4 linked regions of the Homo sapiens genome follow. The protein of the gene in region 1 interacts with the protein of each later gene in a pairwise test. Each region holds a gene or a part of one and is shown on either strand. Other genes may lie near its edges. The genes, in order: UBE2J1, SLC39A2, SLC26A5 and ZDHHC15.

Region 1 (7,332 bases):
TGCTTTATATATATTTCTGCTAACAGATAATTTGATCTTGTTAAAGGACTTTTTTCACAGCCTTAAAATAGGTTTGTTATATGTGATCTCAAGGACAGTATAATAGACAATTTTCTCATTGTATAGATGTAAAACTTATTTTTCTTTAGATAGTTTATTGGAAAAAATAGCATCTGAGCCCTGGATTTTTTTAAAGCCAGCCTAACATTTACTTGTCTCAGGACTATAATCATTACATTAATTTTCTAATTCATAGCATGTGGATAAATGTGATGTGGAATTTTCCAGTGTTCCTTTCTTTTAAGTTTAATGATCGAGCATTTGAGTGTCTCAGTGAGAGGGAATTAAACATTTAACTATTTATTTTCATTTAAAAAATCTTTTTCTACTAGATCACAAGATTTCTGTTGTGAAGGATGTGGCTCTGCCATGAAGGATGTCCTGTTGCCTTTAAAATCTGGAAGCGATTCAAGCCAAGCTGACCAAGAAGCCAAAGAACTGGCTAGGCAAATAAGCTTTAAGGTACTATAAATTCTTAAATAAATGCTAATCTTGCAACCCTTTTGTTTACTGCTGGATTCTGCATAGAAAGGAAAGCGATGCAGTTCTATTACAATATGACATTTGCCAATGTTTTTCTTTTTTCATATTTTTATATTTTTAATTTCTGTGGTTACATAGTAGGTGTATATATGTATAGGGTACATGAAATGTTTTAATACTGGCATGGAATGTTTTTCTTATTACAAAATTCCTAACTACATTCATGAAAGCTTTATAGAATAGTGAGGGAGTGAAACTTGAACTCTGGTATACAATGCCAGGGTTCAAATCCCAGCTCTGTTGCTTATTAGTAGTATGATGTCAGACATATTAATTAACCACTTTGTGCCTTTTTATTATCTATAAATAATAATGGTACCTAAATCATAGGATTGCTGTGAGGATTGAATTAATATATGTAATACATGTGTTGCATTCAGAACTGTCCCTGGTGCTTAATAAATTCTAGCTATTATTACAGAATATATAGATAAGCAACAAGAAGAAAATGATGGCCGGGCGCGGTGGCTCACGCCTGTAATCCCAGCACTTTGGGAGGCCAAGGCGGGCGGATCACCTGAAGTCAGGAGTTCGAGACCAGCCTCAACATGGAGAAACCCCGTCTCTACTAAAAATACAAAATTAGCCAAGCATGGTGGTACATGCCTGTAATCCCAGCTACTCGGGAGGCTGAGGCAGGAGAATTGCTTGAACCTGGGAGGCAGAGGTTGCGGTGAGCCGAGATCGCGCCATTGCACTCCAGCCTGGGCAACAAGAGCGAAACTCCATCTCAAAAAAAAAAAAAAGAAAAAAGAAAAAGAAAATGACATTCATAATCTCACCGCCAAGAAATAGCTACTGTTAATATTTTGGCATCCCTCCTATATATCCCTTTTTTCTGTATATGTTTTACCCGAACATAGGATTATATAATATTTTAATACTTTGAGTATTAAATATTTAATTATTGAAGGTATTAGCTGGGCGCAGTGGCTCACGCCTGTAATCCCAGCACTTTGGGAGGCCGAGACAGGCAGATCACGAGGTCAGGAGATTGAGACCATCCAGGCTAACACGGTGAAACCCTGTCTCTACTAAAAATACAAAAAATTAGCTCGGCATGGTGGTGTGTGCCTGTAATCCCAGCTACTTGGGAGGCTGAGTCAGGAGAATCGCTTGAACCTGGAAGGTGGAGGTTGCAGTGAGCCAAGATTGTGCCTCTGCACTCCAGCCTGGGTGACAGAGTGAGACTCCATCTCAAAAAAATATAAATAAATAAATACATACATACATACAGACGTAAAGTATTAAGTATTTAATCCTTCTGGAATTTAATTAGCTTCACAAACAGAAATGTCAACCTGCATTAAGCAGCATGCTCTCTTCCTCTTCCCTCTCCACTTCTCTATGGACTGTCTGTCTTTCCAGGTCCAGTTCCCTTCTCTTTTATTGTAGTGCCTGGAGGAGGAGTTGCTCAGAACATGTTTACTTTCTTCCTTCTGAGGATTCCTATTACACTTAAAATTGCTTCTGAAAAATCTCAGGACCAAATGTGTTTTGTACATGAGAATTTTTCAGACTTAAGAAAAGATCTTACATATACCATATATTAACTAACCTGCCGTGCGATCTGGGGCAGCACCTCATAATCAAATCCATTAGGATTTCTTCAGCAAATCTGGGAATATTACATTAATGTGGGATTAATGTTTACACTAATGTGGGATAAAGACTATTCATAGGTTCACATCAGCTCATATCAGGCTTTGCCTAAAAATTACCAAAAAAACCTTGAGTTTTGAGAGCTTTTTAGCATTGTGGATTGTGAACCATGGGTGTTAGTTTTGTCCCTCATCAAGTAACGGCTTCTTGAGAACAGGTGTTGTGTATGCTTCTTCCTATGATACCTAGTACAGTGTTGGACACAAGAGTGCTCAGTGATTAACTGCCTGATAATAGATATTAAACTAGCAATTAAAATAAATCCAACAGAGAGGATTTAGCAGGTTGTAGATTGTGTATGTTTCCTGTTGTTTCCTGTTGTCACACTGCTCTTGGGTCTATCTTGTTTATAGGCAGAAGTCAATTCATCTGGAAAGACTATCTCTGAGTCAGACTTAAACCACTCTTTTTCACTAACTGATTTACAAGATGATATACCTACAACATTCCAGGGTGCTACGGCCAGTACATCGGTATGGCTCTTATCTTTTAATATATATGTATGTCTCTATCATTATCACTGTTTGCAATAGGAGGAGAAGATCCTGGATCAAATATCTGAAAAATTTGGTTCTCTTAACAACTGGATTCTAACTCATCAGTCCCGCTAATGAATTATTATGTTGAGCAAGTTGTTCATGCTTTCTGGCCTCAGTTTTCTTTTTTTGTTAAATGGGGCTGGATTAAATAATTTTTGTCTTGTCCCTCCAGAATTCTGTGATTCTCTGAAAAGTTAATTTTAATATAGTGTTAGACTGAATAAAACAAAATATCCATATGTTAGCCACTTTCTAAATAGACACTATTTTTGGCAGGATTGTTCAGCTGCATTAAGGTACTGACTTAATAAAGTCGTAGAGCCAAAAATTTACTTAGACTTGCTCTGTCCAACACAGTAGCCACCAGCCACATGCAGGTGTCTACATTTAAATTTAATCAAAATCAAGTAGAATTTAAAATTCAGTTCCTCAGTCACACCACATTTCAAGTGCTCCATAGCCACATGTGGCTAATGGGTACCATATTGGACAGTGTAGACATAAACATTACTATCATCACAAAATTCTGTTGGACAATGCTACCTCGTATATACTAAGTGTCCAATAAATAATTGTTGAATAAAAGAATGAATGCTATGAGTGTTGTTAGTGGTGCCCTGACCTGTTGTCTAAGAAATTGTTTGGCCTAGGTGATCAGAGAGAGTGATTTAAAAAATATGACTGGATTGGTGCCAAAAAATAAGGATTATGGGAAAAAAATGATTTTCCTTCCTATATATAAAAGATTAACTGTCTTTGGAAGTCTTTTTGGTAACAGATTGTTTGGTTAAGTAGTCACATTTTTTTTGTTGTTGTTTCTCCAGTTTATTGAAGACTTTAAAGGGTGAGGGAAAATTGAAATAGAAGTTGGGCAAATATAGATTTGCCCTTTACCCAGCAATAACGTACGTAAAGTGGGAGTGAATAGTCTTGAGTGAGTCTCTCCTATTCAGAGAGTGAGCTGGGCAGAGAAAAGTTGGTTGAAGAAGAACAGGGTGGTAGTCTAGGGGGACTGAAGATGGAGGTCCAAGAAAAAAGTGTGTAGCGATGAGTTTAAATCATTTTTGTGTGATCCCAATGTAATTTTATGAATTGCAGGGGAAAACAATGAATTAATTTTAAGGTCAATATGTTTTAGTTCAAGATATTGAAAAAGCTTTCTAATTACTTTTTATTTCATAGTTTTTTTTCTAATAGAAGCATTCTATTACAAAAAGGAAGGTGGTAATCTTTTTTCACCTTTTAGGACAGCCTCCTAATGTTTGTGATGTATTTAAATCTTTTGTGTATTTTCAATCTATGTTAAGTCCCCTTGTTACATATTCCAGTTATACTTATTCCAGTTGTAATTTACTTTGTAATTATTTATTGTCTATCTCTCTTCCCAGAATGTAAGTTCTGTGAGGGTCAGGGGTCTCTTTCCGCTTCTCCACTGTATCCCCAGTGCCTGGCTTAGTGCCTTCTATATAGTAGATTGCCAATGTTTGTTTGTTGATTGAATGAATGAATCTTAGGATTGGTACTTTAAAAAATGCTAAGAATACAATTAAATAAATCAAGAAGTTTAAGTAAATTAGAGTGTACAAATAATGATGTTATTATAGTAGTATTTCTTGTTTTGATTTAGTACATAAAACTTAGAATTCTTATTCATAGATACAGGTCATTAATTGAGACTATTTTTAGTGAAAATACCAACAAGCAATAAATTGTCTAAAATTGCAAGTTAAGTTTTTAATTATATTTACATATAAACTATCTCAGAGTATGATTATATAATTTGACCACTATGAAAGTAACTGAAACCTGGTTTGGCTAAGGGTGGTTATTTTACATTAAGTATAATATAAATTAATTGAGATGTTATACATCAAATCCCAGATAAGCTATGATTTTTTTGTTGTTGTTAGCCTGAAGGAGAGGCAAGAGATTGCCACAACTCTAAATACCTCAGATAACATCAGGCCATCTGTTGCTTTTTAATGCAGATATTTTAGCATCAAAAAGCAATGGGAAATGTAGAAATGGGAAAAACACTGAAGGCAGTTTTGTTCTTGCAGTCTGTCAGATTTTCTCCTTTTCCCAGGGTAGGGATCGAGGTTCTGAATAAGCCATTTCATTTTATAATAAAAAGCAAAACTCCCTCACACATGCTGGTTATTCTAGAAAAATTTATATATATATCACTAGGGACTTAACTAAGAATGTGATTTTTTATCTTTTTAAGGGAGAGTCTCACTCTGTTGCTCAGGTTGGAGTGCAGGCATGTGATCATAGCTCACCGAAGCCTCAACCTCCTGAGCTCAAGTGATCCTCTTGCCTTAACCTCCCAAGTAGCTAGGACCACAGGTGGGCATGACCACACCTGGCTAAGTTTTAAAATTTTTCTGTAGAGATAGTGTCTCACTATGTTGGCCAGACTGGTCTCAGATGCCTGGGCTCAAGCAGTCCTCCTGCCTCAACCTCCCAAAGTGCTGTATGATTGTTTTAAATAGGAAAAAATTTAGAATTTTATAATATCAAGGCACTTAATTTTTAGTTAGTGATATACCATCCAAAAGGCATCTGAGGCTGGGCACGTTGGTTCATGCCTATAATCCCAGCACTTTGGGAGGCCAAGGCAGGAGGATCGCTTGATCCCAGGAGTTCAAGACCAGCCTGGGCAATGTAACAAGATCCCATCTCTAAAAAAATAATGATTAAAAAAATAGAGACAAAAGGCATCTGAAACATAGGAACCTAATTAAAACATTATATGTATATACATATTTTCATTAAGCGTATGTGTTAAAATATCATCTAGACCAATGTTTTAAGGGATTGTTTTTCTAAATATATTAATAAAACTATTAAAAGGCCAAAAAGCTGTCCTAACTTATGACTTTTTTTTGAACCTAAATTTAGATGCCCCTCAAGGGATGTATTATTAGTAACAATCATTCTTGGTAGTGTTGCCCTTAGTCATATGTTGTCCTCTGAGATTGTGTATTCTTGAATAGATAACAAGTGTATTTACAAATCTTCTTTGCCAGTTTCAAACAAAGTTTCTTAAAATTTCCTAGTACGGACTCCAGAATTCCTCAGCAGCATCCTTTCATCAACCTACCCAACCTGTAGCTAAGAATACCTCCATGAGCCCTCGACAGCGCCGGGCCCAGCAGCAGAGTCAGAGAAGGTTGTCTACTTCACCAGATGTAATCCAGGGCCACCAGCCAAGAGACAACCACACTGATCATGGTGGGTCAGCTGTACTGATTGTCATCCTGACTTTGGCATTGGCAGCTCTTATATTCCGACGAATATATCTGGCAAACGAATACATATTTGACTTTGAGTTATAATATGGTTTTGTGACTTATGAGCTGTGACTCAACTGCTTCATTAAACATTCTGCATTGGGTATAATCTAAGAATTGTTTACAAAAAGATTATTTTGTATTTACCCTTCATTCCTTTTTTTGATCCTTGTAAGTTTAGTATAAATATATCTAGACATTCAGACTGTGTCTAGCAGTTACGTCCTGCTTAAAGGGACTAGAAGTCAAAGTTCCTTGTCTCACTATTTGATCTGCTTTGCAGGGAAATAACTTGTTTTTTCTCATGTTTCATCTTCTTTTTATGTAAATTTGTAATACTTTCCTATATTGCCCTTTGAAATTTTTGGATAAAAGATGATGTTTTAAGTTCCAATGAGTATTACTAGTTACTCAATACCACTTATTGAGTACTCTGTTTCTACGTATGTAGAATGTATAGGGATAGAAGAGTTGAAAAGGGAAAGCAAAACTCCTCAAGTAGCTTCCTTAAAATGTCATTCATAGGAGATGTACTGGAATTGCTCATTCTGTGACTTTATTTGTGTCCTAAACATTCTTCAGTGAAAATAATTTTATTTCAGTCAAACATTTATGAGGAAATGAGATCACATCTTTGTCACTGGATGCTACTTGAAGAGGGAGTACTTTGTAACCACTTTGATATGCTGTTATCACCACCCCCTGCCCTCTGCTGCCATAATCACACAAATTTAAAAAGAAAGAAAACAGTCTTCCATAGATTTTTAAGGAAGAAAGGGCCCAAGCCAGGAGATCGCTTGGTTTTCTTCCAGAAGTTAAATGGGGGGATCTGAAGATTTGAATGTTTGGTCTGCTTTGAAATGTATGTCTTTTGGGATGTATTATATGCCTAGCTTTATAATCAGTATAAATTTTAATTATTCCAGGAATATGCATAATATTGAAATATTTCATGTCCTATTTTAATAGAAAACCTCAGGGCCCAAGTAACAGTGATAGAAGTTAGAAAAACCTTTACTTAGAATTGTCCACCTAGTCAGAGCCCAAGAAAGAATTTTCAGTGGAAAAATCAATATATAACTTAGTGCTAGCTAGCGCCACAGACTCTAGTAGATAATATTATCATCATAATGGCTGGTGAAACCATATAATCACAGAAAAACATTGCCTTCAGCATGTTCAGTTCGCAGCACTGAGGGCACTCTTGAGGGTGTTGTTAATGAAGATTTAAT
Region 2 (8,281 bases), on another chromosome or scaffold:
AAAGGACAGGAGGCCTAATATTCTCCCTGCCCTTTTTTTTTTTTTTTTAATTAGAGGTAGGGTCTCCATATGTTACCCAGGCTGGTCTCAAACTCCTGGCCTCAAGCCATCCTCCCACTTCAGCCTCTAGGGTAGCTGGGATTACAGGCACGCACCGCCATACCTGGCTCATCCCTGCCCTTTTTGATATACACTTTACCTATTCTTGGGGCCATGTTTCTTATCTGGATATCTCTTCAGTTTATACCTAACTTCCTACACACTCACAGTTGCCTCTTCTTTTCTCCACAGGTGGTTCAGAATCTGGGGAGCCTTATATTCCAGGTGTCTTTTTCAGACAGTTTCTACCTGTATCACCCAAGGCAAGTGGCAGTGTTTAGAATATTCTAAATGTGGAATGTGGCAGATGGAAAACTATGGCTTGAGCTTTGCAGCCCAGCACTGAGTGTTAGAAGATAAAAGAAATTTAGCGGCTAGGACTTTGTTGTATTCTTGGGATGTAGAGATGTTGAGTCTGTCATGTTCCTTGTCTTGGTCCTCAGGTGCAGTTTGATGTAGTAGTGTCAGCTTTTTCCTTAAGTGAACTGCCCAGCAAGGCTGACCGCACTGAGGTAGTTCAAACCTTATGGCGTAAGACAGGTCATTTCCTGGTGAGTTAAAATTCCTTGTTCTCCTTAAGTCTTGAAGCAGCTTCATGGATTTCATGCCTTTGCTCCTCTCATTGTCTTTATTCTTCACCATTTTTCTCCTTCATGGGTTTCTTTATCCCTCTTTGAGGGTCTCCATCCTGATTATGTAATGCCTATTTCTTTTTAGGACTCCTTCTCCCTCTATGATTGCTCTTACACAGCTACTGACATTTATACTTTCGTGTAATTCAAGTCTTCTGCATATTTTCCCCTTTTGTGAACAGGTACTGGTGGAGAATGGAACAAAAGCTGGGCACAGCCTTCTCATGGATGCCAGGGATCTGGTCCTTAAGGTAAGGCTTCTTCTTCCCTCACTCCCCCACCCATATGGCACCAATTACTGTTACTCTCTTGAAAACGAAAGAGACTGTCATGTATTGACAAGGGTGGCTCTCAGGAAACTGGGCGTATGAAGTCATTATGATACAGAGCAGTGGTTGGCAAATGAGAGCCTGTGGATCAAATCCGACCTGCCACCTGTTTTTATATAAGCCATGCTTATTTGTGCCTCTGTTGTCTGTGACTGCTTTCACACTACAAACAGCAGAGTTGAGTAGTTGGGACAGAGATAGATTTTGCCTACTCTCTGGCCCTTTAAAAGAAACTTTGCGGACTCCTAATCTAGGGCATTGCTGAGCTAAGAACCTTGTCACTGGGGGAGAGTATGAGCCAGTGTATAATCATAAATTTAATTGTCCTGGAGTGGGATTTTTTTGAGAGTGGAGGTTGCTGACAAGGGAGAGCACCGTACTATGTGCCAAGTTCTTGCCTTTCTCCTGCAGCAAAGAGAAAGTTCTTTGTTTGGAGTATTAAAGATGCAGCCAGCTTAATTCAAAGGACATAGTCAATCGTTATTAGAATTGAGTGTTAAAGGAGTCCTCAGTTTACTGAGTGCAGAGATTGAATTATGAAAATAGACCCTTGGCCCAGCTTTATTTCTTTTATTTCCTTTGATTTCAGGGAAAAGAGAAGTCACCTTTGGACCCTCGACCTGGTTTTGTCTTTGCCCCGGTGAGTATTACTTCTGCCTGTCCCACCACACGGATCTGAACTTAGGCGTGGCCGGGAAATGTAAGATGGTAAAGCTAAGCCACTCTCCACTACTTTGTGTTCCTATCCAGTTCCTACCTAATGATTCCCCTGGCTCTTCCTACCCACTGCTCCTGTCCTCCCTTCTCCCTGGCCCCTTTTGACTCTATTATTCTCAGTTTTTAAGTTTTGTGATTGATGGCTCTTTTGTCTTACCTCATTTTTTTATGTGTTCACAGTGTCCCCATGAACTCCCTTGTCCCCAGTTGACCAACCTGGCCTGTAGCTTCTCACAGGCGTACCATCCCATCCCCTTCAGCTGGGTAGGTACCTGGGGATATTGCAGCAGGAAGCAAACATCCTGGAAAAACAGGAAGAAAAAGAATCAGAGTTAGGAGGAGTTGGATAATTTGTAGAATAGCCTGGAGACTTTAGGGCCTACATGTATATGATTTATACATTGTAAAAAAGGACTGCAGGAATGGGGAAGAAGGGACTGTACAAACTTTTTTCCCATATCTTTTTCTTCTAAACAGTCTCTATGTTCCTTATCTTAGAACAAGAAACCAAAGGAAGAAAAGTTCTCTATGGTGATCCTTGCTCGGGGGTCTCCAGAGGAGGCTCATCGCTGGCCCCGTATCACTCAGCCTGTCCTTAAACGGCCTCGCCATGTGCATTGTCACTTGTGCTGTCCAGATGGGCACATGCAGCATGCTGTGCTCACAGCCCGCCGGCACGGCAGGTATGGGGGGTGTGACCAAAATCAGTGGGATGTGGCAGGAAGCTGCAGCCCACGCCAGCATCTGTTTCCACAGGGATTTGTATCGTTGTGCCCGTGTCAGCTCCTGGGGAGATCTTTTACCTGTGCTTACTCCGTCTGCGTTTCCTCCATCTACGGCTCAGGATCCCTCTGAGAGTTGATGAGGATGTGTAACAAGTATTTTCTTCTATCGTGCCTGCCAGGGCTGAAGCTGCCTGGTATCCAGGAGGGGAATGCTGGTATCCCCATATGTCTGTGTTTGTTTGAGATTTTTAATAATAAATAATAAATTTTTGAAGAATGGAAGTGGATTTTGTGATTCTTAAAAAGTGTAGAAGCTGGGCACGGTGGCATGTGTCTGCATTTCCAGCCACTCAGGAAGCTGAGGCAAGAGGATCACTTGAGCCCAGGTGTTAAGGCTACAGTGAACTTTGATTGTAACACTGCACTTCAGCATAGGTAACAGAGCAAGACGTCCTCCCTTAAAAAAAAAAAAAAAAAAAAAACATGTAAAAGGTATAGTTAATTATCCTGGCCTATCCTGTAATGAAGAGCTTCCTCAGATTTTTGGTGCCAGGCTTCCCACACAAATCTCAAGCTCGCCCTCTCCTATTGTGGCAGTTCAGAGCTCCATAAGCTCTTCGCTGTAATGATGAATGTGTAAGCTGATCATTAAAGCAGAAGTAGAAAAACCAGATTTCCATAAGCCCTTTGCTATAATGATGAATGTACAAGTTAAACATTAAAGCAGAAGCAAGAAAAATGGATAAGGAATCGGGGGAAACTGGTGCCTGAGTACGAAAGCCAGAATACAAAAAAAGCAAGCCCTTTAAAGCCCCACCTATACTTTCTCTACCTCAGATCTAGCTGAGTGATAAAAGCATTCCTGCACATACAACCCATCCCAGGACCAACTTAAGATTAAGAAACTTCTGTCTGCAAGTACTCACTCACTATGGTGGGATCAGCTGCAAAGCGAACTGTCCCATGCTCATGTTGATGGTTTTCTAGATACTGCCAACATGTTAGCTCTTTCTGGTGCCGATGAATTTCAAACGCGAACAGACACCCTTGATGTGGGTTTGCTAAGAAAATAGAAGAACAGGAAGAAAAGTTGCCAGGTTCAGACATCCCAGGGAAAAAGAAGCGTAAACAGCATTAGCAATCAGTGACTGATGATAATGCTGCAATAATGGGAATGGTTTTATTTCTAAATCAAATCGTTTATTGCTTTGTTTCTAAAAAACAAAAAAAAAACTTCTACCTGCAGACCCCTAGTTTAGATTAATTAGGAAACATTCCCGCAGGTAGTCATAGAGCTTGAATTGTATATAAAAGCTAAAGAAAAGCTTGTAACTTTGAGTTGGTCTGGTGTGCTACTCCGACCTCCCTGTAATCAGTTGCAGAAATAAACTCCCGTCTTTCCCAGTCTGTCTGTCTGCATCTCATTACCGGACCACAAGAACAAGCAGCAGGACCAGTAACACTGTAAGAATCATCCAGTAACACTGTAAGAATACTGCTTCTACCAGAGGCCAGGACTTCCCTAGGAAAATAATCTGGAGTAGCAAGGAAAGCTGCCTCCAGAGCTCTGAGAACTGGCTCAACAGGTCTCAGGGTTGTTATGTGGGCCACCTGAATAGGGGAATCAGCAGCTGCCTGGCCTCTTGTACTAACGCCTTCCCTTCTGTCTTTCCCAGGGTCCCTCAGCTACCCTAGAGTATGTATGGGAAATGCCCCAGACATTTCCATCAAGAGTGATTCCCATCAGAACTGAATCTTCTACCCCCACCTCTCTATATCCAGGTAGAATCCTCCCATTCACTCAGTTCATTTCTGTTTTCCCCTAAGCCTTGCTGTTTCAGGGCTAGAGCAGCTTCCTTTGTCTTAAACCTTAAATGTCTTTTTTTCCACAGTTCTTACCAGGAAACAGGCACAGTTAGAAGTTGTAACAGTATAAATGTTGTAATACCAGACATCTCAACTCATTCCTCTCAAAACTGATCCCAATCAAAAGAGAAAGAAAAAAAACAAATCAACTTACCACTAGACATTTCCATGCCTGGAGCTATTTTTCTGGGGTTACAGGAAAGGGTAGTTCCCTCATGTGGGTACTAGTTCCCACAGAGTAGCACCAGCACCACCTCTCAGCCCCACCTCTTTACCTCCAGGTGGCCCCAAATCTCTGAAAGCGGGTGGTTCAAGTATCAGCATTGCAACCTATAAGACTTGGGATGAGGTGGAGAGGGTATGGAAGGCTTAGATCAAACGTCCTGAGTGAGACAGGACCAGATTGTCCCCAGTACAAAATAGCTGGGAAGCAGCTACCATAGACTTTCCTATTTTGGATTAGACCAACCCCAAGCACATGAACTAAGACTATCCGTAGCTCTTGGATTAGTCATGCCATTGAAGAGGAGGAGAAGACGCCACTGGGCTGTGCCTGGCAGGGAGTCTGGAGTTTCTGGTTTCCAAGCTCAGGAAGGCGTGAACCAGGGGAGGGGCCTCCATGCAGGGGGAGGGCTAGAAGCTGGGGCAGGATCTGTCAGCTCTGCAATGCTGCAGAAGCAGAAGCAACACAGAAAGAAGATACCAACAGCCTCCTGAAACTCACGAGAGTGGACACTCCAGTGTTGACCACCTAAGATACCACTCCTGCTCCAAAGATTACAGCTCCCTTGTCATTCTGACTCCTGGGCTTACCCTACACCCCAGAGATGGAGCAACTACTAGGAATAAAACTTGGCTGCCTGTTTGCCCTGTTGGCTCTCACTCTGGGCTGTGGCCTTACTCCCATCTGCTTCAAATGGTTCCAGATTGATGCAGCCAGAGGTATAGCCCTACCCCATCTTTGTTCCATAGCCTGAGTCTCACCTCAACCCTGTCCTGATACCTTGCTCTGATTCTCTCACCATCCCCAACCTTGGGATATTGAGTGCTGCCTGCTGCTCTTTACTCACCTTTGTCTGTCTCCTCAGTGTCAAGTGGGTTGTAACTTCTGCTTTTTATTAGGTCATCACCGGCTAGTCCTCAGACTCCTGGGCTGTATTTCTGCTGGTGTTTTCCTGGGAGCAGGGTTCATGCATATGACTGCTGAAGCCCTGGAGGAAATTGAATCACAGATTCAGAAGTTCATGGTGCAGGTGAGAGCAGAGATTTCAAGCCGCAGGTCTATGAGGCCAAAATGATAAACAGGACAAAGGGAAGAGAGCGGGAAAGTGATGGAGCCAAGGACATGGGTGGAACGACAAGGAAAATGACAGCTCTTGTGTGGGATGGTGAAAGCAAGTCAGATTAGGCTTTAAGGAAAACAGAATTGCTGAAGGGACAGCACAGGAAGCTGTGCTGCTCCATCCCACATCTAATTTCTGCTGCTTTCTTCTTAGAACAGATCAGCAAGTGAGAGAAATTCTTCTGGTGATGCTGATTCAGCTCATGTAAGTACCTCCCACCATCCCCTATCTGGAGAGTGAGGAGAACCAGAGAGGCCTTTCATATCCAGACCCTTTTGAGAGGAATACATGAGGAGTACCAAGAATCCCTTCTGCTCCCTAGCTCAGACATCGTAGAGGAAAAGAGGAGCAAATCCAATCCTTTTGAGTTTATAGAATGCCAGGGAAAGCCCTTGTTTTACTCTTTCATTCTTTCCCTGGATCCTCTGATATACCTCACATCATTTGCCCATGTTTTTAACTCTATTGAGATTCTGTCCCTTAGCCCCTCTGGCAGTCTTTTGTTGTTGTTGTTTTTCGTTTGTTTGTTGAGATGAAATCTCTCTGTCGCCCAGACTGGAGTACAGTGGCACAATCTCGGCTCACTGCAACCTCTGCCTTCCGAGTTCTAGTGATTTTCCTGCCTCAGCCTCCTGAGTAGCTGGGATTACAGGCACGTGCCACCACACCTGGCTAGTTTTTGTATTTTTAGTAGAGACGGGGTTTCATCATGTTGGCCAGGCTGGTCTCAATCTCCTGACCTCAAGTGATCTGCCCACTTCAGTCTCCCAAAGTGCTAGGATTACAGGCATGAGCCACTGTGTCCGGCCCACTCTGGCATTCTTGTTGTTGCATGGCCATGTCTACTCTTGGCTTCATTTCCCCTACCCTTTTTTGTGTTCTGTTACCACATTTTCTCATTCTCTTCAATCTCCCAATTCCATGTCCATCCAATGTATTGCCTACCCTTCCTTTCCATCTCACAGCCCTTCTTTTTGTTTCTAGATGGAGTATCCCTATGGAGAGCTCATCATCTCCCTGGGCTTCTTTTTTGTCTTCTTTTTGGAGTCGCTGGCATTGCAGTGCTGTCCTGGGGCTGCTGGAGGATCGACAGTGCAGGACGAAGAATGGGGTGGGGCTCATATCTTCGAACTCCACAGCCATGGACATTTACCCTCACCCTCAAAGGGTCCCCTCCGAGCCCTTGTCCTCTTGCTGTCACTCTCCTTTCACTCAGTGTTTGAAGGGCTAGCTGTGGGGCTGCAGCCGACAGTAGCAGCTACCGTGCAGCTCTGCCTTGCTGTCCTGGCTCATAAGGGGCTTGTGGTGTTTGGTGTAGGAATGCGGCTAGTGCATTTAGGTACCAGCTCACGATGGGCAGTGTTCTCCATACTATTATTAGCTCTCATGTCCCCCCTGGGCCTAGCCGTAGGGCTGGCTGTGACTGGAGGGGACTCTGAAGGAGGGCGGGGCTTAGCCCAGGCTGTGTTAGAGGGTGTGGCAGCTGGTACCTTCCTGTATGTCACCTTCCTAGAAATTCTTCCACGGGAGCTAGCTAGTCCTGAGGCCCCTCTAGCTAAGTGGAGCTGTGTAGCCGCTGGTTTTGCCTTCATGGCCTTTATTGCCTTGTGGGCCTGAGAGATTCCTGGCTTTTCTGATGGACCTATTTAGGACAACCTCTCTATCCCCAGGGAGACCTCCCAAATGGCTTTGACCCTCAGACATTTCTTTACTCAGACTAAATAGCATTCAGTAGGACTGGACTGGACCCCAGGTTTCCTTTACATGAGATCCCATTTCTCACCCTGGACTAAGACAAAGATATTTAGGTTGAGCAGCTATTAATTGGAGAATTGGTACAGAGACGCTCCAGATTTTATTCTTATCCCATTTATGCTACTGTGTGTAATAAAATGCCCATTTTACCCTCCTTCAGCCATTCTGGATTTCATTTCTCCTGGTTGCCTAGATGCTACCTGGCACAGGAAGTGGTGGAATGGGGAATGGGAAGGATGAGTGTTGAATGCAGTATTTTATTCTGGAATTAGGGCTCCTAGCCATCCTGTCAGTTGCAGCCACACCCCTAGACATGGCACCTTGCTAAAATTCCCCTCCCACCTTACCCACTGTAGTTGAGAAAATGAGCCAGTTCCCAGCATTTAAAAGGAAAGAAAGTTAAAAGCCAAAATGACGTGGATCGATTATGTTCCTACACTTACCATAACCACCCCATTCCCAGTACCCATTATCAGCCACCGATAACATGTCCAGGCTAAATGGAGATCAGGCAGAATGGAACCTATCTCCATTAGGTTCCTGTTTTTTCACACCGAGCCCTGTGTGGCCTCAGGGACACTATTGCTCTTCTTTGAGCTTCTATCTCCTTCCAGCTGCCTTGTGTTGAGGGATTAAAAAGCAGTGTGCTTGGAGAGGGAGAAAGGTGCTAGATATTAAAATAAATGCCTGGGATGATTACTTGGCTCTTGCAGGACTCACTGGCTTTTCTCCTGCCTGTCTTACCAATTGTCTTTCCATCTAAGTAACCCCTACAATGTGTTGTTTCTCTTAAAAACTGCTGAGGACAAATACGA
Region 3 (7,332 bases), on another chromosome or scaffold:
AATAAATTTTTTTAACAACATTCGAGTGACCATGTTATTATACATGAAGTTAGGATGCTTTCCCAACTCTTCTTTTGCTAAAGCTGTTTTCTCCACAGCATAACAGTGCATTAAATGAGTTTTCTAATTGTCCCAGAAATTTGGCTGAGCCCCCAAAGCTGAGAATAAAAAGGGCTTATTGCCTACACATTCTGAAGAGGGATGCCAGTCAATCTATCCCAAGCTATGAATGAATGACCCAGGCCCTCTTGAGTGTGTCACTTTAACAGAATATATGAGGGAACGAGGAGACTGATTTGGAATGAGAATTTTCCAGGGAGAGGTTAAAACCCTATCCATTTCCCCTCCACCTGTAGTCAAGTAAGAAAGGACTACAAGAAAGCTGCTCAGCGTGCTGAACAGTACCCCCTGGAGTTTGTGAAGACTGCTGCCTAATTCTTGCATGAAAAAGTCCAGCTGCTCTAAAAACTAGTTTTTAAAAAACTTTCAAGTGAACCTGCACATGGATGTTTATAGCAGCTTTATTCATAATTGCCAAACCTTGGAAGCAATCAAGATGGCCTTCAGTAGATGAATGGATAAACTGTGGTACATCCAAACAATGAAATATTCAATATTAAAAAGGAATGAGCTATCAAGCCATGAAAAGACATGAAGGAACCTTAAATGCTTATTACTTAGTGAAAGAAGTCAGCCTGGTGTAGCTTAATACTGTATGATCCCAACTGAATGACATTCTAAAAAAGGCCAAACTGGCCAGGCACAGTGACTTATGCCTGTAATCCCAGCACTTTGGGAGGCTGAGGTGGGCAGATCGCCTGAGCCTAGGAGTTCAAGACCAGCCTGGGAAACATGGGGAAACTCTGTCTCTACAAAAATTAGCCAGGTGTGATGGTACACACCTGTAGTCCCAACTACTAGGGAGGCTGAGGTGGGAGGATTGCTTGAGCCCGGGAGGTTGTGGCTGCATTGAGCCATGAACATGCCCCTGTACTCCAGCCTGGGTGACAGAGCAAGACCCTGTCTTAAAAAAAAAAAAAGGGGGGGGCAAAACTTCAAAGACAGTAAAAATATCATTAGTGTCCAGGGGATGGGGGGAGGGAAGTATGAATAGAGCACAGAGAATTTCTGAGCAGTGAAACTACTTTATATCACACTATCATGATGGCTACCTGTCATTGTACATTTGCATAGACTGTACCACACCAAGAGTAAACCTCATGTAAACTATGGACTTTGGGTGATAGTGATAGGTCAATGTAGGTTCATCACTTGTAACAGATGTGCCACTCTGGTGGGGGATGTTGATAGTGGGGGATGTTGATAGTGGGGGAGGCTGTGCATACATAAGGGCAGGGAATGTATGGAAAACCTCTGTATCTTTTGCTCAATTTGCTGTGAACCTAAACTGCTCTAAAAATTCTATTTAAAAAAAAATGTCTAAAGGATGATGTGAACTGCCTAGGACCGCAGAGTGAGGGAAAGAGTCCCCTAGAGGGTGTGACCTGCACTTCCAAAGTTTCTTGGGAGTAAAATGTCAAGCTTTCCCATTGAGTAACTGGAAGGTAATGAGACTTGGCCCATTTGATAGGTACCTGCCTAAGAAGACTGCCTACAGGATGAGCATACACCAGCCAAAAGAACGTGGAAGGCTGTACCTTCTGATAAGAGTCGGAGGAGGGATATCTAAGAGTCAGGAGGAGGGAGCATTACATAGGTTAGGGCATAGTAACTGAGAGTCCCTTATTGCAAAGGGGTCTCCAGAGAACCCACAAAAACACCCCATTGGAGAACGAGCTCGCATTTGTGAGTCAACACCAAATTACAATGACAACCACTAAGATAAGACTTTTTTCTGCTTTTATCTAATTTGTGAAAGAATAAAGCAGAAAAAAAAATCACCCACTGGCAAAAAGGAGATGACAATGCAAAGTTTCTCAGCTTGGACTCTATCAGCACCAAGGTAAGATGATGTGCAGGACTGGGGTAGGGCAGGTTGCAGCTTAAATTAAGATGGGCTTCACTCGTTCATCAGAAATAAAGAACCAAGAGAAAAACACATGTAACACCTCTGTCTTCTAATGATCCCCCATTTCTGTTTGGTTTTTAATCCCACAGGCTTAGCCTTTGCAATGCTGGCAGCTGTGCCTCCAATATTTGGCCTGTACTCTTCATTTTACCCTGTTATCATGTATTGTTTTCTTGGAACCTCCAGACACATATCCATAGGTAAAAGCTTACATTTGATATTCTATTACCTTTCCTTGTGTATTTCCAACCTTGCAATGTGCCAAAGAAATAGCATGGTCATTATTAAAAATTGTCTTAATAACAACTTTTGTTACTGCATACACAATAGGTGCTTTAAAAACCTACACTCGGCCAGGTGCGGTGGCTCATCCCTGTAATCCCAGCACTCTGGGAGGCCGAGGCGGGCAGATCGTCTGAGGTCAGTAGTTCGAGACCAGCCAGACCAACATAGTGAAACCCCATCTCTTTGTAAAAATACAAAAATTTGCCAGGCTTGGTGAGGGGTGACTGTAATCCCAGCTACTCAGGAGGCTGAGGCAGGAGAATCGCTTCAACCTGGGAGGCAGAGATTGCAGTGAGCTGAGATCACACCACTGCACTCCAACCTGGGCAACAGAACGAGACTCTGTCTCAAAAAAAAAAAAAACAAAAAAAAAACTACACTCCTCCCAAGATTTCTAGAACTTACAATTTTCTTATAATCTTGGGATAATAAAAAAGACAATTTTCTTGTGTAAAAGGGCAATTGTTGAAATCTGTGAAATGAGATAAATGCTTGATTTCATAATGTAATTTGCCAGCTTCTGGTTTTTATTTTTATACTAATGGTAGTACTTCAAGTTCCTAATCGCTATGCATGTATTTCATTTTTGTCATATTTTGGGCTCTGAATTGTACATATTTTCAGTTTATCAGGGGCATATGGATTTCATAATAGTTCTGGTGCTGCATAAGGCTACTACCTAACACACACATACTTTCCAGATATCTACTGTTTGGTAACAAATACCCCCAAAATGTAGCAGCTTTACAACAACAATCATGTTTGTATCTTCCATAGTGCCTGCAGTTCAGGACTTGGGAAGGGCTGGTCTGGGTAATTCTTCCTCTCTCCCTTTTTCCTCCCTCCCTTCCCTCTTCCCTGCCTTCCTTTCTCCATGCAGTCCCAGGAATTCTCCACTTGGCCTAGTTGGAGCTTTCTTACACATGGTGACTTAGGGCTTCAGCAGAAGGTGGAAACTGCAGCCCTTTTATTACCTAGCCTGAGAAGTCACACAACGTCACTTCTGCTGCATTCTTTTGATTACTAACAAGTCAAAGCCAAGCCAGATTCAAGGAGAGAGAAATTAGACTCCACCTCTTGATGGGGAAATGTCAAGAAGACTCTGTGGATGGAAGATATTGCTATGTCTATTTTTGGAAAATACAGTCTGCATGCGCACACACGCACACACACGGTTGCTCATACACCAGGGGCAGGACACTAAAGAAGGGAGCGTAGCCTTCCTTCAAGCATGATTTCTTGACCTCACCTTTGTCTCTTGGTGTACTGGCAAAAACCATATCAGATACTCTGAACCCTGAACAGGGATCTTCATGCTTCATTATTTCAGGTCCTTTTGCTGTTATTAGCCTGATGATTGGTGGTGTAGCTGTTCGATTAGTACCAGATGATATAGTCATTCCAGGAGGAGTAAATGCAACCAATGGCACAGAGGCCAGAGATGCCTTGAGAGTGAAAGTCGCCATGTCTGTGACCTTACTTTCAGGAATCATTCAGGTAAGGCTCAAAGATGGGGAAATGGACTGTCTCGTTTGTTAACCTAACAAGTATCTACTGAGTGCTCTTGGCTGGTCTTACTACACGGTGGATGGGGTCAGCCAGAAAAACCCCAGAGCTCTGGGAGTAACTGCAGACCAACTGCATGCCATATTCACAACTATGAGTGACGAGCAAGCAAGCTTCAGGTGGGTGTTTTAAAGATCCCAAAAGCAAGACAAGTTTGACACGGCAGGATTGGTTAGTGCTGGGAGAGGACATTCCTCTCTGCTTGGAAGAAACAGCCAGTGATCATGATCATGCACTTTAGTCTACATGATGAAGCATGCCCCCAGCTCAATGAGAGACAGGGAAGGCATTAGTGTGGTCAGCGCACTGTGGGGCACCAAGCCACTCCAGACCTTCCATTGTTTTCTGTATAACCAGTGGTTGATTTTCTAGCTACTTACCCACTTGAGGTACAAGTTTGCAGTGTTAGAAAATGGTCCAGAGGCTGGGCGCGGTGGCTCACACCTTTAATCCCAGCACTTTGGGAGGCTGAGGCAGGCGAATCACAAGGTCAGGAGTTCGAGACCACCCTGGGCAACATAGTGAAACCCCGTGTCTACTAAAAATACAAAAATTAGCCGGACATGGTGGCACACACCTTTAGTCCCAGCTACTCAGGAGGCTGAGGCAGGAGAATCGCTTGAACCCGGGAGGCAGAGGTTGCAGTGAGCTGAGACTGTGCCACTGCCTGGGTGACAGAGCAAGACTCCATCTCAAAAAAAAAAGAAAATGGTCAAGAAAGAACTTGTATATTTGCTGTGGGTCATAACTTCCTGACCTATCATGTGATTCATTTGTTTCTTTGTCATTAAAAAAAAATAGTTTTGCCTAGGTGTCTGTAGGTTTGGATTTGTGGCCATATATCTCACAGAGCCTCTGGTCCGTGGGTTTACCACCGCAGCAGCTGTGCATGTCTTCACCTCCATGTTAAAATATCTGTTTGGAGTTAAAACAAAGCGGTACAGTGGAATCTTTTCCGTGGTGTATGTAAGTAAGAAACTACCTGACGTTCTGGTACTTTTCTCTTTATTCCCCCCAACCTTCTCTTCTGTATCTCTTTTTACTTTCAAGACTCATTTTTCTTTTTCTCCAGTAATTTCCATAAAAAGGGAAAAATTCATTTATTCTAAGGTTTTCTGAAAAGAGTGTTACAAAGAGAACTAAACCTTAAAATCTCTGTTATTAATATGTGATACTGCCTACTTCACAAGGAATTTTTTGCTAGGTCTTTATTTGGTGACTGCACCATCACTCTAGGTAAAGAGAGAGCTTTTTCTTACAACTAAATCATGATCTTTTTGGAAACTAACAAATAATTTAAAGGCATGAAGGTAGAACATTTCTCTCTCAAAAACTGCTAATTAAGGCCGGGCGTGGTGGCTTATGCCTGTAATCCCAGCACTTTGAAAGGGCTAGATGGGCGGATCACGAGGTCAGGAGATCGAGACTATCCTGGCTAACAAGTGAAACCCCGTCTCTACTAAAAATAGAAAAAAATTAGCCAGGTGTGGTGGCGGGCACCTGTGATCCCAGCTACTCAGGAGGCTGAGACAGGAGAATGGCGTGAACCCGGGAGGTGGAGCTTGTAGTGACCCGAGATCCCATCACTGCACTCCAGCCTGAGCGACAGAGCAAGACTCTGTCTCAAAAAAAAAACAAAACCTGCTAGTTCAAACTGGCAAAAAATAAGTAAGGCTATAAAAGATTTAACTAACATGAATCTTTTAATTATATAGACCCCTTACCAAACACAGAGAAAATATAAATTATTTGCAAGCACTTAAGGAACAATGGTAATAACTGATCATGTTGAAATCGATCATGTGAAACTGATCACAAATTCTAAAAATTCAATGTTTTTTCACACAGTGCAATATAATAAAAAAATCAAAAACTAAACATAGCTTTAAAACTCCCATATATTTAGAAACCAAAAAACATTTCTAAATGACCCATGAATAAAGAGGGAATTAGGAAATAATTAGAATTAATTGACAGTAGAAGTACTACATATCAAAACCTCTGAGATGCTGTTAAAGCTATCCTTGAAAAGAGAGGCCTGTTGCCTTTGTAGGTATTTATGTGCCAGACACTGCTAGGTGCCAAGATGCAGCTGTGAGCTAAGAAGATACAGGCCTTGCCCTCTGGAGCTTTCAGTACAGTGGGAAGATTGTAAACCATTAATCGCATACATGTGTAGTCAATTACAATTTGTGTTGAGTGCTATGAAGAAGAAGTACCAGCTGCTCTGAAAGTTAAATAGGGAGACCTTTAGATTAGGGGTCTAGGAAAGGCACTTTGACATTTAAGTTGAGTCCCTGACTGATAAAAATGGAATCAGGCTTTAGGAATATTCTCTAAATAACAAAATTCTTAGTTTCCCATAATAGCTATTATCATACTTCTTACTCTGAGACTTGTCGAAATGCCTTGTCACAAAGGAAATAAAACATACTGAGTACTCTAGGCATCGATAGGAAAGGGTGCATGTTGTGGGCTGAGTGGGAAGTCTACTTTATTGGGTTTCAAATGAGAACTGACTATATTTGAGGTGCCCAGTTGGTAACCCTAGGATATAATTAAGTGGATTTGTTCTCTAGTTCTCCTAGGTTCCTTTCCCAAACATCAGCACTCTTGACTTCAAAGTCCTGCTAACAATAATTTCTCTCTCTTTGAGCTCCTAAAAGCTTTTCAATGTATTTACCTTTGGAGTACTTTGCTATCAACCCTTAATTCTTTCCAATTGCTCAGGACTCAGCTTCAGGGTTCCTTTTCTGGATTTTATAATATTACATTGAGACATCAGCATATGATAAGAATAATTGTTTGATAAGAATAACTATAAGGCTGGGCACAGTGGCTCACACCTGTAATCCCAGAACTTTGGGAGGCCGAGGCAGGCAGATGACTTGAGGTCAGGAGTTCGAGACCAGCCTGACCAACATGGTGAAACTCCGTGTCTACTAAAAATACAAAAATTAGCTGGGTGTGGCGGCAGGCACCTGTAATCCCAGCTACTCAGGAGGCTGAGGCAGGAGAATTGCTTGAACCTGGGAGGCAGAGGTTGCAGTGAGCCAAGATCATGCCACTGCACTGCAGCCTGGGCAACAGAGCAAGACTGTGTCTCAAAAATAAATAAATAAATAAATAACAACTATAAAAAGAAAAGAGTAACAACTATAAAGTTGTAGACTGGGTAAAAATGCCTCCTAATTGGTAGAAGCTACAAAGAGAGATTTCAGCCTTGGAACTTTCCACTAGAAATATCCAATAACGGAATGGCTGGTGTGAATTAGTGCGCTAGAGTGTCTCTGTCTCTCTCAGGGGCGATTTCTTGATGTAAACATCCAGCATTCACTGTGTTACAGAGTACAGTTGCTGTGTTGCAGAATGTTAAAAACCTCAACGTGTGTTCCCTAGGCGTCGGGCTGATGGTTTTTGGTTTGCTGTTGGGTGGCAAGGAGTTTAATGAG
Region 4 (7,781 bases), on another chromosome or scaffold:
ATGGGAACTGATGCAAAATGTTAAGAAAACACTGTGCAGGCCAGGCAAAATATATCTGAAGGCTACATCTGGCTTGTATGTCACAAAGTTTTTACCTCTGCATTAGTTTAGAGGAGACTGTGGCAACATACTGCCTGGGTTTTAAGTTTGGCCATTTACTAGCTCTGTGACCTTAGGTAAGCTACTTATTCTGTCTGTTCCTCAGTTTACAAACAAGTAATGATAGTATATACATTGGAAAGTTGTTATAAAGATTAAGTGTCTGTGTGTGTAGTCACCTAGAAATAGTACTTGGCATGTAGCAGTGTGGTGCAAGTATGTTAACTAAAACAAACAAATAAGTCCTACGCTTCCTTTCATCTGTTAATATTACATGACTAAAGAAGAACTTATAGAAGGCCAATTATTTGCAGTAACTTGGTCTTTACCTTGGTTTGCTCATCTGTGCCTCAGTTTACACATTTGTACAATGGAAACAGTAATGGTACCTGCCTCATATAGTTATTGTGATGATTAAATGAATTAATATATAGTTAATCTATCTACAGAACTTAGAACATTTTCTGGCACAGAGTAAGCAATACATAAGTGTTAGTCATTATCATCATTAATTTTTAAAATATATCTTGGTGAAGCTCATATGAGTCAATACTGAAAAACTCCAAAATAAGTTGTTTACAATATGGCATTGATCCTAGGAGCAATGTCCATACCATAATAATGGTGCTGAACTTTTGACCCTTCAATCAATCATTCAAAAAGCCAAAGTAGTAAGGTCTGAGAATAGAAAAGCTTCCCAGTCATTGCATAGTCTACTTAATGCATCCCAATACTGGATTGAGATACAAAAGAAAACTAGGCTAACTTGTATCTATGAAGGCAACTAATGACATTTATTTTAAGAGCTCTTTCTGCATTTTCCATAATATCTCTAAGGAAGAGGTAAAAAAAATTCCAATTGTGATTCAGAGAGGTAATTAGAATTAGAATATAGGAAATTATAGAATTAGAATATAGAAAGTTCTATATTGGAAAAGAGGATCATCTCCTGCCTCCCTAGTTTATCCCAGTCTACCTGGGGTAGACTATTGCTTTGCAAATATGTAACAGAAGAAAATTACAAATGGAGTCAGGTCCCGGAGTTCAAAAAAGCAGCATCCTTACCATCATTTTTAAGGTGAGAAGAGTTTGGTATGAAAAAATAAAGAAGTCTCAGAAGGACTTGGGAGTGAGGGGATGTCCAATGGGTCAGGAGTCCTACTGTGAGAGGAGTATAAACATATTGGAGCCCCAAACTAGATGAATAGGGAACATTGTAGGCCACAAGTTTAAGGGTGCTGGCGATGGAATTACAGTGTCGAAGTGACAAGACTGACAAGTATTAGTGGAATCTCTTTTGAGAGGAGACAGGGATTCTTCAATGTGAGAAGACAGGGACAAGGGGAGATTTTACTGTGAGAAAAGCAGGGACCCTATTGTAACAAGACAGGATATAATATGAAAACGCCATTGTGAGTTGATGAGAGCATTGCAAGGCCAATAATAATAAGAATGGGGAACGGGGGGAATTAAAGTGGAAAGTGGGAATAATATAAGGGAGAGACTTGGGGTTTGTGTCGGGAAATATTGTAGAATTCTGAGTTTGAATGCACAAGCTATACTGTGAGAACCATTTTGCAAATAAGGAGGATATAGAGTGCTCCTTAGTGTGACAGGACAGGGTAAAAAAAGATCATAGAATTATAAAAGGGGTAGTCTAATGAGAGGGAATGAGAAATGATATGCCCATTGGGAGGAGTAGAAAATATTAGAAACCCCAGTAAGAAAGAATGGGGTTTCCCCAGTTTGAGAAGATGGGACAAGTGCAATCCAATGAGAAGTAAGAAGAAATAATAATAAGAAATCCCAAAGGAAGTGGATGGCAGAATGTGGGGCTAAAAGTGAAAGAACACTGTGGGAGGTGGGGAGTGGGTTTCCTAAAAAAGATAACGAGGAATAATGATTAGAAAAGTAGCGGCCCTTTGATGGAATAGGAGATAAATTACGGAAACCCTTGTGGGAGGGTAAAAGAGGTGACTCTAGTGGGAGAAGGCACTATCATCATGTGACAATAGCAGGGTCACCAGTATAAGGTGTCAGAAAATAATGTGGGGCTCCTAATGGGAAGGAGTCGAATGCTCCTCAAAGCAAGAAGGCAGGAGACTGGAGGGAACTCCAGTATAATATAATCAGGGCCTCTCATGTGAGAGAGGATGTATTATAGAATACCAATCCCATTAAAGAAAATGATTAAATGGGGGGAGCCCACAGGGAAAGAGAATGGAGGGCTTACCACTGTGTGAAAACGGAAGATCTTAATGGAGTAGAATAGGGTGCACTGTGGGATCACAAGTGGACAAAGATATGAAGCACTTCAGCCAGTGTGAGAGGATCACGGGAAAACGATAGATTCCAGTGTGTGAAAAAGGAGAGCTAGTAAGAGAGTAGAGGAAATATTTTGGAACTCTCAGTAGGAAATCCCTAGTAGGAAATCCTAGTAGGATTCTAGTAGGAGGGAAAATGGTGGGGCTCCTAGTTGGATGCATTGGTGAGATTCCTAGTGTGAGCAAACAGTTTAAAGACACAGGGTATGTTGTTTCCTCAACTTGGTACAGTAGGGGCTCCCAGAAGGAGAGCACAAGGTGCAGATGGTTGCCCTGTATGAGAAAAGGGAGCCCTCGTGGGAAGAGCCAGGACATTATTGTGGGTAGGGCAAAGAAATAAGAAACCCTAGGTGGGAGACGATGGAGACACGGCGGGACCCTGGTGGGAGGGCGCAGGAAATATTGTGGGAAGCCAGAGGCTGGGGACAAGGAACTCTCCAGGGAGAGAAAGGAAAACCGCAGAGAGAAGGCTTGAGAACACAAGGGACACCAGTGTGAAGGTAGGGCAAACGATTATATTGGAGTATAATTTCCCCACCTTAGGTGCCCAGCCCCACTTACCCAGGCAGAGTTCAAAGACGTAGGCATAGTAGGACCAGAGCACGACGAGGACAATAACGAGCACTGGCACCCAGGACAGTACCCGGCGGCAGCACCGCAGCCCCCCAGACAGAGCCATCTTCCAGCCTCGCCGCATCTTTGGCTCGAAGATCGACCAAGCAGGCCTGCTGGCGCCGGGTCGGAACCGCTAGGGTGGCGGCTGCGAGGCTGGAAGGCGCGCTGTGCGGCACTCCACTGTCTAGCCTGGCGGGAACCCTCTCGCGGAGCCTTCGCCACCTGTGGGGCTGCGCTGCTGAGTGCGCCCTGCCTGGCACAACAGGCTTGAGTCACGGCGTTGAGGAACTAGCCATGTTGGAGCGGAAGGGTGATCCGTCAGGCAGTCGGAGCTAGCACGCTCAGAGGGAGTGCAGTCCCTCCCCTTTCTGCCTCCTCCCCACCCTGTTTCAAGGCTGGATGCAGGGCTAGACCTCCGCAAAATCGTGAAGCCGAAGAAATTTGGGTCCGCCCATCTGCTCTTACTGCACTGCGTCCGCCCTCTTTGTTTCTGTCTCAGTCTCTCTGTCTCCCTTCGTTCTCTTTCTCTCCCCCTGCTACCCCCCCCCACAGTTACACACACACACACACACACACACACACACACACACACACACACGCAGTGTGAAAGATGCGAGCCATAGCATCTCGTAACATGAAGGCCATCCAGCTCCATCCTCCCACTGCTGCTTGAACAATATGCTTAACACGTAGTGCCGCAGTCGCTGCTTGGGTAAGTCCTTTGACAGGGCACTCCCTCCTTCCCTTTTCCCTCCCCGCAGAATCAGCTTAGTATGTTTTTAGAACAAACACATTGGTATAAAAAAACAAATGAGGGAGACTGATTCTGAGAGGGGTCAGGGAAAGCTACAAAGGTAGCGATATTTAAGCTGAGCTATATTAATAAATTCAGGTTTTCCAGGCAGATGAGAGGAGGAGGACCTTTTAGACAGAGGAAACAGCATTTACAAAGTCATAGAGTAATGAAAGTCCAAAAATGTTCCAGGAGCAGCTAGTGTGGCTTGAAGAGTGTTTGTGAAGAAGAGAGGCTAAGAATGAGACTGGGAGTATGAGGCCATGGTGTGAAGGCTCTTATATGTCCTAGCATGGCATGGGGACATAATCATGTAAAGCAGATTATGAAGAGCCATCAAAGGTTTGGGGGAAATGGAGTGACATCAGGGATATGTTTTTGTGAAATAACTGGCAGGATTTTGGAAAGGAAGATGGCCTTGAAGTAGGAAGATCAATTAGGAGGTAATTTAATTCAACAAATGTTTTTGGAGTGGTTGCTTCCTGTTAGATCAACTTTGGTACAAAAAGAATGACAAAATAGTGGGCCTGACCCCAAGAAGCTCATGTTCTCATTGGGGCTGTAGTTGTTCATTGACACAAGTACAATAATAGAAGTACAGCAGGCTCTTGGCATTTATGGATTTGACACTCACTGTTTTTCCCAAAGGTCTTTTACATGGAGAAATTTGTGATTTTGCTGAGATGCATGTGTGATTCACATTCTGTGTGACTACTGTGTGGGAGCAAGTGTCTCTACGAGGTTGATCTCTGTTCTTTATTTATGGTTATATATGCAGTAAATTACCTGAAGTGATAAAAGATTTATTGTTTCTTTTCAGATTAAGCTAATTTTATGGTTGATGTTACTAAATTCATGATGCAATGAAATGCAGAGTTCATTTTAGTTACAATATTTAGTAGCCTAGTTAATTATTTGAGCCCTAAGTTTCTGACATGTATACTTAAATTTTCCAATATTCATAATTCGGGGCTTGTGGAACATGTATATTGGGATTGTCAAGGGTATACTATTTAAACCAAGTAGCCTTGAGGAGGCAATGATTAAGTGTGAAAGGGAAAGTCCCAGTTGGGTTTTGAATAATGACTAGGATTTCACCAGGAAGATAAGAGATGGGAGCAGGATTTAAGGGAGGAGGGGATTCCAGGCAAAAGGAAATATGTAGTGGCAAATGTATGCGAAACAGCACAACATACTTGGGGGACTGCAAGTAGCCCGCTTTTGCTGGAAGATATTAACAGTACTCTAACCAAGAGATGGTAAGAGCCTAGGCCTAAGCCAGGCTATGAAGGGAAGGAGAGGAGGGGAAAGATGTAATAGTGTTTGGGGAAATCAACAGAATTTGTCAACCAGTTGGCAGGTGAGGAGTGAGATAAGTTAAAGCTAACAGCCAGATTTCTAACTTCAATGCCTGAATGAACAATGTTGCCAATCACTATGATAGGGGCTATTGTGAGAAGAGCAGAGTTCGTGGGGGAAGTTGATAACTTTCACGTTTTGACATGATTAATTTTGCCTAAGTCTTCCTCTTCTAAGGTAGCCCGATCACTAATCAAATAGTCTGGGGCCGGGGGGCTTATGACAGGGATAGCTCACACCCAAAGGAGCATGGAGGGCCAAGAACCAGAGAGACAAACCATGTTCAAGTGTATACATCAAGGATTGGCAAACTATGCCTATGGGCCAAATATGGCCCACTGACTTTTTATGAATGAAGTTTTATTGGAACACATTCATGTCAATTTGTAGTCTATGGCTGTTTTGTACAATGCTGAGTTGGAGTAGTTGTGACATAGGTCATATAGCATGCAAAGCCTACATTTATTTAAATTTATTTTTAAAGACTTTATTTATTAGAGCAATGTTAGATTAACAGCAAAATTGAAAGGAAGGTTCAAAGATTTCCCATATAACCCCTACCACCACATGCATAGCCACCTCCATTATCAACATCCCCCACCAGAGTAGTACATTTGTTAGAATCTGTGAATCAGCATCAACATATATTTATCATCCAAAGTCCATAGTTTCTATTAGCATTCACTATTGGTGTTGTACAGTCTGTAGGTTTGGATGAATATATAATGACTTGTATCCACCATTACAATCTCATATAGAATATTTTTGCTGCCCTAAAACTCCTCTGTGTTCTACCTGTTCATCTCTCCCTCTCCACAACTCTTGGAAACTATTGATTTTTTTTGTTTTTTTTTACTGTTTCCATAGTTTGCCTCTTCCAGAATGTCATATAGTTGGAATGATACAGTATGTAACCTTTGCAGATTGGCTTCTTTCACTTAGTAATATGCATTTAAGATTCCTCCATGTCGTTTCATGGCTTGATAACTCATTTCTTATTAGTGTTGAATAATATTCCATTTTCTGGATGTACCACAGTTTATTTATACACTCACTCACTGAAAGACATCTTGGTTGCTTCCAAATTTTGGTTGTTATGAATAAAGCTGCTATAAACATCCATGTGCAAGTTTTTGTGTGGACGTAGGTTTTCACCTTATTTGGGTAAATACCAAGGACTGAGATTGTTGGATCATGTGGTAAGAGTATATTTAGTTTTGTAAGAAACTGCCAAAGTGTTTTCAAAAGTAGCTGTACTATTTTGTGTTTCCAGCAGAAATGACTGAGAGTTCCTGTTGCTCTACATCCTTGCTAGAATTTGGTGAGGCCAGTGTTCTGGATTTTGGCCATTGGAAAAGTCTGTAGTGGTATTTCATTGTTTTAATTTGCACATCTCTGATGACATATAGTGTGGAGCATCTTTTTGTATGTTTATTTGCCATCTATATATCTTCTTTGGTGAGGTGTCTGTTCAGGTCTTTAGCCCTTTTTTTGAGATGCTTGCTTTCTTATTGTTTAATTTTAAATAATTTTTGTGTATTTTAGATTACAGCTCTTTATCATGTGTCTTTTGCAAATATTTTCTTTCAGCATGTGGCCTTTTTATTCTCTTGATAGTGTCTTTAGCAGAGCAACTTTTTTATTTTAATGAAGTCCAGCTTATTAATTCTTTCTTTCATGGATTGTGTCTTTGGTGTTCCATCTAAAAAGCCATCACCAAACCCAAGGTTATCTGGATTTTCACATATGTTACATTCTGGGAGTTATACAGTTTTGTGTTTTATATTTAGGTGTGTAATCCATTTTGAGTTAATTTTTATGAAGGGTGTAAGGTCTGTGTCTAGATTTATATTTTTTGCATGTGGATATCCATTTGTTCCAGAACCATTTGTAAAAATGATGATCCTTCCTAGCACTTCGGGAGGCCGAGGCCAGTGGATCACCTGAGGTCAGGAGTTCGAGACGAGCTTGGCCAACATGGTGAAACCCTGTCTCTACTAAAAATACAAAAACTAGCCAGGTGTGATGACATGCGCCTGTAATGCCAGCTACTCAAGAGGCTGAGGCAGGAAAATTGCTTGAACCCAGGAGGTGGAGGTTGCAGTGAGCCAAGATTGCATCACTGCATTCCAGCCTGGGAGACAGAGCAAGACTCCGTCTTTAAAAACAAAATAAAACAAAACAAAACAAAACAAAACAAACAAGGTCTTTTCTCCATGGTATTGCATTTACCCCTTTGTCAAAGATCAGGAGATTTTATTTATGTAGGTCTATTTCTATTTCCAGGTTCTCTATTTTTTCCACTGATCTGTTTGTCTATTATTTCATCAATATCACAGTGTCTTGATTATTGTTGCTTTATAGTAAGTCTTGAAATTGGCTAGTGTCAGTCCTCTAACATTGTTCTTTTTCAATATTGTGGTGTTCTGGTTATTTTGCCTCTCCATAAAAACTTTAGAACGAGTTTGTTGATATCCACAAAGTAATTTGCTGGGATTTTGATTGGGATTGCATTGAATCTATGGATTGGGAAGAACTGACATCGTGATAATATTGGGTCTTCCTATCCATGAACATGGAACACCTTTCCA

The links.
Region 2: the proteins of UBE2J1 (region 1) and SLC39A2 interact in binary tests that used the Homo sapiens proteins (3 or more experiments, as listed by UniProt).
Region 3: the proteins of UBE2J1 (region 1) and SLC26A5 interact in binary tests that used the Homo sapiens proteins (3 or more experiments, as listed by UniProt).
Region 4: the proteins of UBE2J1 (region 1) and ZDHHC15 interact in binary tests that used the Homo sapiens proteins (3 or more experiments, as listed by UniProt).

Annotation. Positions count from the first base shown.
Region 1 is NC_000006.12:89,328,492-89,335,823, reverse strand, and holds part of UBE2J1 (ubiquitin-conjugating enzyme E2 J1), read left to right. Parts: intron 1-392; coding exon 393-522; intron 523-2,618; coding exon 2,619-2,738; intron 2,739-5,836; coding exon of another isoform or gene 5,837-5,866; coding exon 5,867-6,145; 3' UTR 6,146-7,332. UniProt on the Homo sapiens protein: Catalyzes the covalent attachment of ubiquitin to other proteins. Functions in the selective degradation of misfolded membrane proteins from the endoplasmic reticulum (ERAD) and is essential for cells to recover from ER stress.
Region 2 is NC_000014.9:20,994,252-21,002,532, forward strand, and holds SLC39A2 (zinc transporter ZIP2), read left to right. Parts: upstream 1-5,041; 5' UTR 5,042-5,195; coding exon 5,196-5,310; intron 5,311-5,490; coding exon 5,491-5,621; intron 5,622-5,864; coding exon 5,865-5,915; intron 5,916-6,695; coding exon 6,696-7,328; 3' UTR 7,329-7,620; downstream 7,621-8,281. Other genes in the region: METTL17 (ribosome assembly protein METTL17, mitochondrial isoform 1 precursor), read left to right, coding at 292-362, 543-650, 914-982, 1,650-1,700, 1,958-2,041, 2,276-2,632. UniProt on the Homo sapiens protein: Transporter for the divalent cation Zn(2+). Mediates the influx of Zn(2+) into cells from extracellular space. The Zn(2+) uniporter activity is independent of H(+)-driving force, but is modulated by extracellular pH and membrane potential.
Region 3 is NC_000007.14:103,407,899-103,415,230, reverse strand, and holds part of SLC26A5 (prestin), read left to right. Parts: intron 1-2,118; coding exon 2,119-2,229; intron 2,230-3,644; coding exon 3,645-3,811; intron 3,812-4,681; coding exon 4,682-4,846; intron 4,847-7,227; coding exon 7,228-7,332. UniProt on the Homo sapiens protein: Voltage-sensitive motor protein that drives outer hair cell (OHC) electromotility (eM) and participates in sound amplification in the hearing organ.
Region 4 is NC_000023.11:75,519,905-75,527,685, forward strand, and holds the start of ZDHHC15 (palmitoyltransferase ZDHHC15), read right to left. Parts: upstream 3,134-7,781; 5' UTR 3,121-3,133; coding exon 2,985-3,120; intron 1-2,984. UniProt on the Homo sapiens protein: Palmitoyltransferase that catalyzes the addition of palmitate onto various protein substrates.